Homo sapiens: one gene and its partners. The protein of the gene in region 2 purifies or fractionates together with the protein of the main gene of each other region. This does not show direct contact. Each region holds a gene or a part of one and is shown on either strand. Other genes may lie near its edges.

Region 1 (3,648 bases), on a different chromosome or scaffold from region 2:
TTCAAGGTTGGATGGCCCAGGCGGGAAACAGAGTGGAGAGCTCAGTAGGCCGTCTGAGACTGCTGCTGGCGGTAGCCACCGCGGCGCATGTAGCCCTCGTTTTTGCGGTAGCCGTCCTTCTGGTCTGTAGGAGAGAGATGGGAAGGAAGGGCAGGGAATGCCAGGTGAGAGGCGGTGAGGGCACCAGGAGTGGGCAAGGAGAGGAGCCGAAGTACTCACCTCGGAAGTAGCCCCCGTAGGTGCCCTGCTTGTGGTCAAACACCCGTTCGTTGTTCTCCACCAGGCTGCCCAGCTTCTCGGCCAGCTGCAGAGCCAGGTTCTGCTGGGCAGTGGGCTCAGTGCGGTGCATCACCACTGTCTGTGTTGGCTGGTCCAGGGAGGCCTGACAGGCGCCAAGGCAGAGGAGGGGACACGACACAGATCAGGCCCCTCTGCTCCAATCCCTCCATGGCTCCACCTGCCCGCTTCCCACCCCGGCCCCTACGCTCCAATCCCTCCATGGCTCCACCTGCCCGCTTCCCACCCCGGCCCCTACCATCAGCTCCTCATTAATGATCATTTTGCTGATGATGGAGTGCACAGTGGGCAGATCCAGCTCAAACATGTCTGACAGCGTCTCCATGCTGGGAAGAAAGAAGGCAGAGGGCAGGGGCAGTCAGGACACTTGCCCACAAGGCTGGGGCCCTTCTGTGTCCCCAGGGCCCCGCCTACCTGATGGAGTCATAGACACTGCTGTAGGTGAAGAGGTAGGTCCTCAGTGACTCTTCCTGGATCTTCCTGTGGGAAGAGGGGACAGAAGACACAACAGGGCCTCAGGGAAGGGGACCAACCAGTCTCTTCTTCCCCGACCCATCACGGCCTCTCTGTCTGCTCACCTAACCAGCATGGTGCGGACTTTGTCAGCCTCGGGGAAAAGGTCCCACACTTTCCCATTCATCTTCTCATTGATGATAAAACTGTGACAGGTCTTCCAGTCACCCATCTTCATGGCCTTGGAGGCAGCGACCACATGTTCCCGCATGGACTCAGGGGGACCTGAAAGGGTGGGAATGAGGCAGGGCCTAGGGAACTTGGGACAAGTTCCATTAGCACTCTTTAAGGAGGAACAGAGGCTGGAGGAGCAAACCATACTAGAGACTCTCCCCGCCTCTCCACCAAACAGCCACGTAGTCGCCCAAGCCACTCCATCTGCACAAATGTTTGAACTCAATCAGTCCATAGATGCACTTCAGGGGACTGCCGAAACCCTCAAAAATGTTGACAAATTGTGCACATGTCCTCATGTACATTCTTCCTAGGAAAAAGGCCCATGGCTTTCATCAGATTCTCGTAAGCTTCCTTGACCTAAAAACACCTCTTCCAGCCAGGCGTGGTGGCTCACACCTGTAATAATCCCAGCACTTTGGGAGGCCAAGGCAGACGGATCATCTGAGGTCAGGAGTTGGAGACCAGCCTGGCCAGCATGGCAAAACCTCGTCTCTACTAAAAATACAAAAATTAGCCAGGCATAGTGGCACACGCCTGTAATCCCAACTACTCGGGAGGCTGAGGCAGGAAAATTGCTTGAACCCGGGAGGCAGAATTTGCAGTGAGCTGAGATCTTGCCACTGCACTCCAGCCTGGGCTACAGAGCGAGACTCTGTCTCAAAAAACAAAACAAAACAAAACCAAACCACCTCTTCCAGCTCAACTGGAATGGAATTTACCAACCCTTCCTCACTCACATCACCTTCATGAATGGTGCCATGCCCATGCATCAATTACACTGTTGCCAGCTTATTATTCTTCCAAGCAGCTCACTTCTTTTCCTTAAAAAACTTAGCCCCGGTCAAAATTATCTCTAAAATCACAAGTTTATATATTAATTATGAACTCAGGCCCCCAAATACAATCCTAAGACAAGCCAGGAAGGTAAGACATGGTACGCCATAGTAACTGGAATTCAGGGTAGACAAAGTGCAAAAGTTCTACGGCTAGAAATGGGTGGCAGACAGTGAAACACAAACACGCAGACTCCACAGCAAGAACGGCAAGCTCAATGCGAACGGGGATCAGGTCCAAATGGAACCATAGGAGCAGGGCTAAGTGTTAAGAGTGTAAGGAGAGGCACACAGCCCTCCTGGATGAACCTCCATTTTAACCATATTAACACTTGCAAAAGGCAAGGTTGGTCTGGGCGCAGTGGCTCACACCTGTAATCCCAGCACTTTGGGAAGCCGAGGTGGGCGGGCCACCTGAGGTCAGGAATTCGAGACCAGCCTGGCCAACATGAAGAAACCCCATCTCTACTAAAAATACAAAAAATTAGCTGGACATGGTGGCGGGGGCCTGTAGTCTCAGCTACTCGAGAGGCTGAGGCAGCAGAATCACTTGAACCCAGGAGGTGGAGGTTGCAGTGAGCTGAGACTGCGCCACTGCACTCCAGTCTGGGCAACAGTGAGGCTCCGTCTCAAAAAAAAAAAAAAAGAAAGAAAGAAAGAAAAAGGCAAGTTTAGGGGCTCAAAGAATATTTCTCTATAGGCCGAACAACAGTGCAGGGCTGATGGAAACTGGCTTTTGGAACCACTGTAGGGAGAAATTGAGAGGCAGGGACTGTGGAGAAGCAGACAGCCCTTTCCCATCGCTGCTACTTCAGCTCCAGCCAAGGCTAGCTCTGCAGGAAGGCAGGGCCAGGAGCGACAGACTGCCAATATTCTAAGACATGAAAATTCCGATTTTCATGGGAAATTTCCCCACAAAGTAAATCTCACTACATAAGCCAAACAAAATGTGCCTAAGGGAACCTGCCCTTTAGCCCAAACATATACATGACCAGGAGAGGACAAATCTGTAGGGGGATGTGGCTGTGGACACTGGGCTCAGCTCACTCGTCAAGCCCTCCTGTGGGCCAATGTCACAGGAAGGGCGCAGCTCAATTCCTTTCCAGTGAGTCACCACTCACTGCAACCCTGCAGGATCTGTCTTTCAAAAGGGGCCAAAGGAATCAACGTTAGCCTCTTGAACGATAAGGCTCTATGATAGTTGGTTTGGCTGGAATATAATGTACATGAAGGGAAGAAAAGGGAAAGAAAGATCAGAGGTACACATGAGCTGCATTAAACTCGGGCAAGTCACTTAACTACTCTGTGCCTCAGTTTCTCCACTGGGAAAAAGGGTATTACTAGTACCTACCGGCATAGGGTTATTACTAATGCAGATTAAATAATTATTTGTAAAACACTTAGCACAGTGCCAGGCAGAGGAGGTGTCATTAAATCAGATGGAGTCGAGTGGTGGGAGAGTTACTCCCTTCACTTCTCTTAATCCTTATGTGTAATCAGGGAGCAAGGCAGCCTGCTGAACCCTGGAGCTCCACACTCACCCAGCAGGGGCTGTCGCTCGCCCACGCGCAGCTGGTGGTGGAACTGCTTGCTGATCATGCGTCGGCGGGCATCGCTCTCATGGGCGGCCATGTAGGGGATCTCCAGGAGCATGGCAGACACCAGGTAGACACACTCCAGCAGCTCCAGGTTGATGTGCAGGTGGAAGGGGACCTGACGGCGCCGCTCCACCTTCTCCTGCTCCTGGTTGCGCTCCTGCAGGCTGCGCAGCAGCAGGCCCTGGCCCAGAAGCTCCTTGGCTCGGCCACTCGACTGGATGTCCAGCAGG
Region 2 (3,518 bases):
GAAGCTCACACCTGCGCAACCTTGTCCAGAGTCCCCTGTGTATCCTGCCGGCACCTCCTCCAGGGAGCCTCTGAGTCTTGCCTAGTTGAGCAGCAGCCCCCATCCCTGTCCTCCACAGCCTTCAGTGCAGTCCTACAGGGCAGCCTCTTCGGGCAGCTGGGCACCATGCCCTCCACCTACAGCACCCTCTTCCTCAGCGGCCAGGGCCTGGCTGGGATCTTTGCTGCCCTTGCCATGCTCCTGTCCATGGCCAGTGAGTGCACTTGGGTGGCTGGAGGGCTGGGGTGGCCTCTGAGGTTTGGGGAAGAGAGAGGGCATGTGAGAGCAAGACACATGGGTTCTGGGTGAAGATGGAGGTAAGCAGGTGATATGGAAATGGGGATTGGGTCTGGGGCTAGGGAGTGGGGCTCATGGGCCCTGCAGTGAGGAGTAATAACCAAGTGAGGACTGGGTTAACTCAGGGACAGGGGCAGGATTCCTGGGGCTAATACTGGCATGTGGCAGCAGGTTGAAGTTGAAGGATAAGGGGATGGGTTTGGGATTCAGATAGTCTTGGGTTTGAATCTGCTTCACCGCTTACCAGCTAGGGGTGTTGGACAAGGCTTGTCACCTCTCTGTGCTAGCTTCCCCACCGACGTGATTGGTATAGCTCCCTGCTCAGATTGTAATGAGCATGCAATGAGAGAAGGCTACTGGCACATAGTACGTGCTCAACAAAAATGACACATGGGGAAAGTGAGAGAAGTGCAGGGCTGCTCTGGGGCCCTGTACAAGATTCCCATTTGTCAGTGAAGGGAGGAGCGGAAGAGGCTGGGAGTGGGTCTGAGAAGTACACAATGGGAAGTGGGACAAGAGTTGGAAGCCCCGTGGGAGCCGGCGGGACCAGGTGCCTCTCTTCTGCAGCTGAAGTTCCTCCGCAGGTGGCGTGGACGCCGAGACCTCTGCCCTGGGGTACTTTATCACGCCCTGTGTGGGCATCCTCATGTCCATCGTGTGTTACCTGAGCCTGCCTCACCTGGTGAGCCTGCTGTTGGGCTCGAGGCCCCACCTCAAAGCATCTTGGATAGAGTCCTGAGCCTGAGGCCCTGAGAGAGGCCAGGGGAGGTGGAGGAGACCTGGTCTCAGCCCTGACCCCCAGAGAAGACACTGAGGGGCCCCAGCCTCCAGGCCAATGGTATGGGGAGGGATCCAGACACCTCAGGCAAGCCAGGCAGGCCCAACACTTTCCTGTCCTTCTGCAGAAGTTTGCCCGCTACTACCTGGCCAATAAATCATCCCAGGCCCAAGCTCAGGAGCTGGAGACCAAAGCTGAGCTCCTCCAGTCTGGTAAGCCCTGAGACCCTCCTGGGGAGGTGGGAGATGCAGAGGAAGCTAGAGCCACCTCCCCTGGGAAGCTGTTCCATCTGTTCCCAGCCAGAGCCCACCCCTAGTAGCCTTGTGCAAACAGGAAGATCATGAAGGGAAGTTGGTAGGATTAAAGTCATCCCTGCTGTTGTTTGGGCCTCAGTTTCCACCTCTATAAAATGGGGAGGCGACAGAGGTTCCATGCATGCAAACTTTGGATCCGAAGACCTCTGAATTGGAATACTAGTTTCACAACATCCCAGCTGTGTGGCCTGAGACAAACCACTTAGCCACTGCACCCCTCTGAACCTCAATGTGTCATTTGTAAAGCAATGGTAATGAGATAATCCATCTAAGGTGCTTCGCTCATCACCCGACCCATGCACGCGCTTCCTGGTAGCTATGCATATTTCCATCATGAATTCCCTTCGCCTGCAGCCTCAGCTTAGGCTGGAGGAAGATCACCTTTTTTTGTTTTGGGGTGAGGGGGTTGTTGTTATTTTGAGTCAGGATCTCACTCTGTCACCTAGGCTGCACTGCAGTGCTATCACAACTCAACTGCAGCCTCGACCTCCTGGGCTCAAGTGAGCCACCTCAGTCTCCCGAGTAGCTGGGACTATAGGTGCAGGCTGCCATGCCCGGCTAATTTTTTTATTTTTGTAGAAATGGGGATTCACCATGTTGCCCAGGCTGGTCTCGAACTCCTGGGCTCAAGCAATATGCCCGCCTCGGCCTTCCAAAATGTTGGGATTACAGGCGTGAGCCACCATGCTGAGCTGAGGATCACTTGTTTTAACTGCTGGGAATCTCCCTTCGTTGGGCCTGGCTGTCGGGAAACCTGGGTCACAAGCATGACCCTTCCCCGTCCCCCCTCACCCCAGATGAGAACGGGATTCCCAGTAGTCCCCAGAAAGTAGCTCTGACCCTGGATCTTGACCTGGAGAAGGAGCCGGAATCAGAGCCAGATGAGCCCCAGAAGCCAGGAAAACCTTCAGTCTTCACTGTCTTCCAGAAGGTTTGGCTTGGATACAGCCCCCAACCACCATCTTTGGGGAAGAATGGGGCTCACATTGACTCCAAGGTCATAGGGTCACAGTGGGTCAGGGACACAGCTGGGCCAGGCCCCAAGTGTCCTGCTCCCACATGGGGCTTGGGCAAGAGGGTGGGGCCCTGGGACTGCCCTGCCTGCTCACACCCCTGCCTCTGGCTCCCAGATCTGGCTGACAGCGCTGTGCCTTGTGTTGGTCTTCACAGTCACCCTGTCCGTCTTCCCCGCCATCACAGCCATGGTGACCAGCTCCACCAGTCCTGGGAAGTGGAGTGAGTGTCAGGGTGGAGAAGACGGCAGGGCAGGGGGTACAAAGGGGAGAGGACGGGAGAGGGGAGTTGGAGACCAGTATGAGCTGCAGCCGTTTCCCTCCCAGGTCAGTTCTTCAACCCCATCTGCTGCTTCCTCCTCTTCAACATCATGGACTGGCTGGGACGGAGCCTGACCTCTTACTTCCTGTGGGTAAGCACACCAGGGCTGGGTGATCCGATGTTTTAGGAAGCAGTTTGGGATCCGAGGGCTTGAAAGAGCATGGAGGTGATTTTCTGGTAGTCCAAATGGCCTGGTAATGCAACCACTGGCCAAGCAGCAGGGAGCACTTGGGCCCTGGAGGCGTGCAGGCCAGGGCTTGCACTGTGAGCTCCCTGAAAGCAAAAATCATGTCCAGCTGACCTCTGTGTCCCCAGCATCCAGCCTTTGCTGCTCAGAGAATGTTACATGGAGGTTCCTGCACCAGGTGAGGGACTGAGCAAGAGTCTTAGTTTTGGGGTTGGTTTTAGCCATGGTACTGTATCTTTAAATGAAATCTTCCAAAGAGACAATACATAACGCAGGTGAAAGAGGAGCTGGTCTCATCCAAGTCAGGACAGGAGCTGATCTACAGCTTCCAATCCCACTCAGAAACCCCATCTGCCCCCAAGGGGGTCTGTGGAACCACCAGTGGGTGCTCTGAGGAACCGAGTACGTAAACTGTAGATGCGGTGGAGAGCACAAGCTGGAGCCTGGGAGAGGCAGAGGTGAGCCCCAGGCCAGTCCCTGATTTCTGGGTGGACTTGGCCCAGGCCCCAGTGCTGGGTCCTCCCTCACTGGCTCACAAGGTAGGTCAGGTCAGAGGAGGTCAGGGGGT
Region 3 (3,143 bases), on a different chromosome or scaffold from region 2:
TCAGGGCTGGAATTAGAACCCAAGACGGGGTGACTCCTGTGCCAGGCCTTGTGACCCCTGCCATGCTACCCAGTTTGGCTGATAGGCTGGGTTTTTGAAGCTCAGAGGTCTGATTCCAGGAATTTGGGCATATCTTTTCTGTCCTCGGTTCTGGCAGGTTCTCTTGGCCAACACCTTCTGCGTGGAAGCTTACTTGCAGAATCTCTTCAGCCTCTCTCAGCTGGACAAGTGTGAGTGGCATGTCTTGGGGGAGGGAAGGAAGGGCCCACTTCTAGGCCCCTATTGATGGTGAGCTGTTTCTGGACCCTGTCAAGCTCCCAGAGCCTGCTAGCTACTCACAGACCTCTGCCTTGAGCGAGGGCCTGGGTAGGCCTGGGCTTAGCTGCAGCAGTGCCCACCAGGCACTGTAGGTGCATACCTGCCCCATTCACCAAGGCAGTTGTATGTATATATGTGTGTGTGTGTATGTATGTATGTATGTATTTATTTCGAGATGGAGTTTCGCTCTTGTTGCCCAAGCTGGAGTGTAATGGCGCAGTCTTGGCTCCCTGCAAACTCCACCTCTTGGGTTCAAGCGATTCTTCTGCCCCAGCCTCCCGAGTAGCTGGGATTACAGGCGCACGCCACCACGCCCGGCTAATTTTTTGTATTTTTAGTAGAAACAGGGTTTCACCATGTTAGCCAGGCTGGTCTCCAACTCCTGACCTCAGGTGATCTGCCTGCCTCAGCCTCCAAAAATGCTGGGATTACAGGCATGAGCCACCGCACCGGGCCTGCCAAGGCAATTTTAGATTGAGCAAGTGCAGAGCCCTTTGCGCAGGACCCCTGGCATCTGCCCAGCATGCCTGGCTGTATTCTCTTTTTTTTGGAGACATAGTCTCACTTTGTCACCCAGGCTGGCTGGAGTGCAGTGGCATGATCTTGGCTCACTGCAACCTCCACCTCCTGGGTTCAAGCAACTCCTGTGCCTCAGCCTCCTGAGTAGTTGGGATTATAGGCACGCACCACCATGCCCAGCTAATATTTGTATTTTTAGTAGAAACAAACAGGGTTTCACCATGTTGGCCAAGCTGGTCTCCAACCCCTGACCTCAGGTGATCCGCCCACCTTGGCCTCCCAAAGTGCTGGGATTACAGGCATGAGCCACTGTGCCCAGCCCTGGCTGTATTCTTGAAGCTGCCCGGGGAAGGCTCACGAAGGGAGGAGCATCTGGTTGTACCTGATTCTGGAGACAGCATTTTACCTGCCCCTTTACCCACTGTACTCCATCCAAAATGACCCTGCAGTGCCCTGCAGAGGTCTCAGGCCTTGGCCTAGAGAACAGAGGGCTTTGCTCGTGCTCCCCGCTCTGTCTGCAGTGCTCTTCCTCTTCTATAGCCACTCGACCATATCTAGGAATGCCCAGCTCAGTCTACCTCTGACCCTCACAGTCCTGTTGACCTGAGGTTCTGGATCAGTGTCCCCACAAAGCCCAGTCGTGTTGCCAAGTGATGGGTGTAGGCGCCAGCACTGTGGCACTTGCTGAGAGTGGCATATGATTTTTTGCAGGTCCTAGCCCTGGGGGTAGCCCAGACACCCCCCCAGTGCTGACAGGTTATGTGCTGTGGAGGGTGCTGAAATGGTTTCTCCTCCAGTGGGCTGGAATCACAGATGGGCTGTTTACGGAGCAAGTGCCGGCTCCACCCCATGAGATCTGGGGGTTAGAGATGAGCAGGATGAGTCCTTTGTAACTGAGAATGAAGCTGTACCCCTTTCTCTCCCTGCAGCCCTGAATCACTTGCTGGGGGTCTGGAGGAGGGGTTCACCCTTAGGGCTGCTTCATGGTGGGTGGGCTGACTTTGTGGAAAAATGCCCCCACTTCAGCCATGTTTGTCTTATCACGGTGCAGAAAGATCACCCACCATCTCTCCTTTTCCTTCCCAGATGCTCCAGAAAACCTAGATGAGCAGATTAAGAAAGTGTCCCAGCAGATCCTTGAGAAGCGAGCCTATATCTGTGCCCACCCTCTGGACAGGACATGCTGAGGCAGGGGACAGTGTCCCCTGCTACCGCCCGCCCCTACCCATGGCCCGTTGCTGGATGACTGTTACTCTTTTTTCAGAAGGTGTTGGGATTATCACAGGTTAAGCCTTTTGTTCCCCGTCTGCACCTGAAGGGTTGTCGCCTGGCCTGGGAGAGCCTCTTCCAGGTTTTGACCTGCAGGCAGTGCTCTCTAACAGGACCATCACAGCTTCTGAACTGAGCCGGAGAGAGAGAATGGAATTGCTGACCCCTGGAACTGGCGGGTATTCTGGTCATTGAGGAGACACCATAGTGGAAACTGGGGCTTATGCTGCTGCCTCCAGGGTGTGAGGTGGGTGGGGACCTGTGTCAGGTGTGGATAGCCATTTCTGCTCAACCACACATTCTCTAAGAAACAGCTTGAAAGCTCTGTCTGGGTCATTCATTTAAACTAGAAGCAGAGGCACTTAAAACATGTACCAGGAACCATTTAACAAAGAATATAAAATGTCACAATCTGTGTACTGTTAGCCTTTGCTGTACTTGTCACACTGTTCCTTAGAACCAGCCTTTAATGGGTGACAGCAGGACCCTGAGAACCACCCTTTGGTGATGGCCTCGGGTCCCCTTTGTCCTCACCCTGCAAGGAGGGCCCAGAATGCTAAGGAGCAGACACACAGTGCAGGCCACAATCCCTTGGGGTTATGAGCCCTTAGTTTTTATCCTTCTCAGGAGATGATGGGGAGGCTGTCTCAGCTGATGATGTTCCCACCTAGGGACTTTAGTTTCTTTACAAGAACTGGCTTCTACTCTTGAGGAGAGGATGAATGGTATCTCCAGGCCAGCAGGCCTTTGCATTTCTCCAGCCTCCCTTCTGCTGGCACTTGAAAGATTACACCAGGTCCCAGCGTGCTCACTGTGGTGAACTTTAAGCTTTGATGTGGTCCTTGGGTGGTCTGGAGCTCTAAAATGCCTATTGTGGACACTCCCTTGAGCACAGAGAAGGCAGCCGACTCTTTTTCCTCCAAGTATATTCCCAATTTACTGTGATGCTGGAAATAGGCAAGGAGGAGACTGGGAACTTGGAGAGCTGAGCTGGCTGAGTGGGGCTGGCCTGAGCATTCTGCCAGGGGTTTGGTAAC

What was found.
Region 1: the proteins of SLC29A2 (region 2) and EIF3CL purify together in Homo sapiens (affinity purification with mass spectrometry; one large-scale study listed by BioGRID and IntAct). This does not show direct contact.
Region 3: the proteins of SLC29A2 (region 2) and ACAD9 purify together in Homo sapiens (affinity purification with mass spectrometry; one large-scale study listed by BioGRID and IntAct). This does not show direct contact.

Annotation. Positions count from the first base shown.
Region 1 is NC_000016.10:28,379,757-28,383,404, forward strand, and holds part of EIF3CL (eukaryotic translation initiation factor 3 subunit C-like protein), read right to left. Parts: coding exon 3,362-3,648; intron 1,036-3,361; coding exon 876-1,035; intron 778-875; coding exon 712-777; intron 624-711; coding exon 536-623; coding exon of another isoform or gene 509-535; intron 458-508; coding exon of another isoform or gene 422-457; exon of another isoform or gene 383-421; coding exon 220-382; intron 125-219; coding exon 42-124; 3' UTR 1-41. UniProt on the Homo sapiens protein: Component of the eukaryotic translation initiation factor 3 (eIF-3) complex, which is required for several steps in the initiation of protein synthesis.
Region 2 is NC_000011.10:66,365,272-66,368,789, reverse strand, and holds part of SLC29A2 (equilibrative nucleoside transporter 2), read left to right. Parts: intron 1-118; coding exon 119-253; intron 254-920; coding exon 921-1,018; intron 1,019-1,241; coding exon 1,242-1,326; intron 1,327-2,225; coding exon 2,226-2,359; coding exon of another isoform or gene 2,360-2,558; coding exon 2,559-2,664; intron 2,665-2,768; coding exon 2,769-2,854; intron 2,855-3,518. UniProt on the Homo sapiens protein: Bidirectional uniporter involved in the facilitative transport of nucleosides and nucleobases, and contributes to maintaining their cellular homeostasis. Functions as a Na(+)-independent, passive transporter.
Region 3 is NC_000003.12:128,910,584-128,913,726, forward strand, and holds the end of ACAD9 (complex I assembly factor ACAD9, mitochondrial), read left to right. Parts: intron 1-157; coding exon 158-230; intron 231-1,923; coding exon 1,924-2,024; 3' UTR 2,025-2,531; downstream 2,532-3,143. UniProt on the Homo sapiens protein: As part of the MCIA complex, primarily participates in the assembly of the mitochondrial complex I and therefore plays a role in oxidative phosphorylation.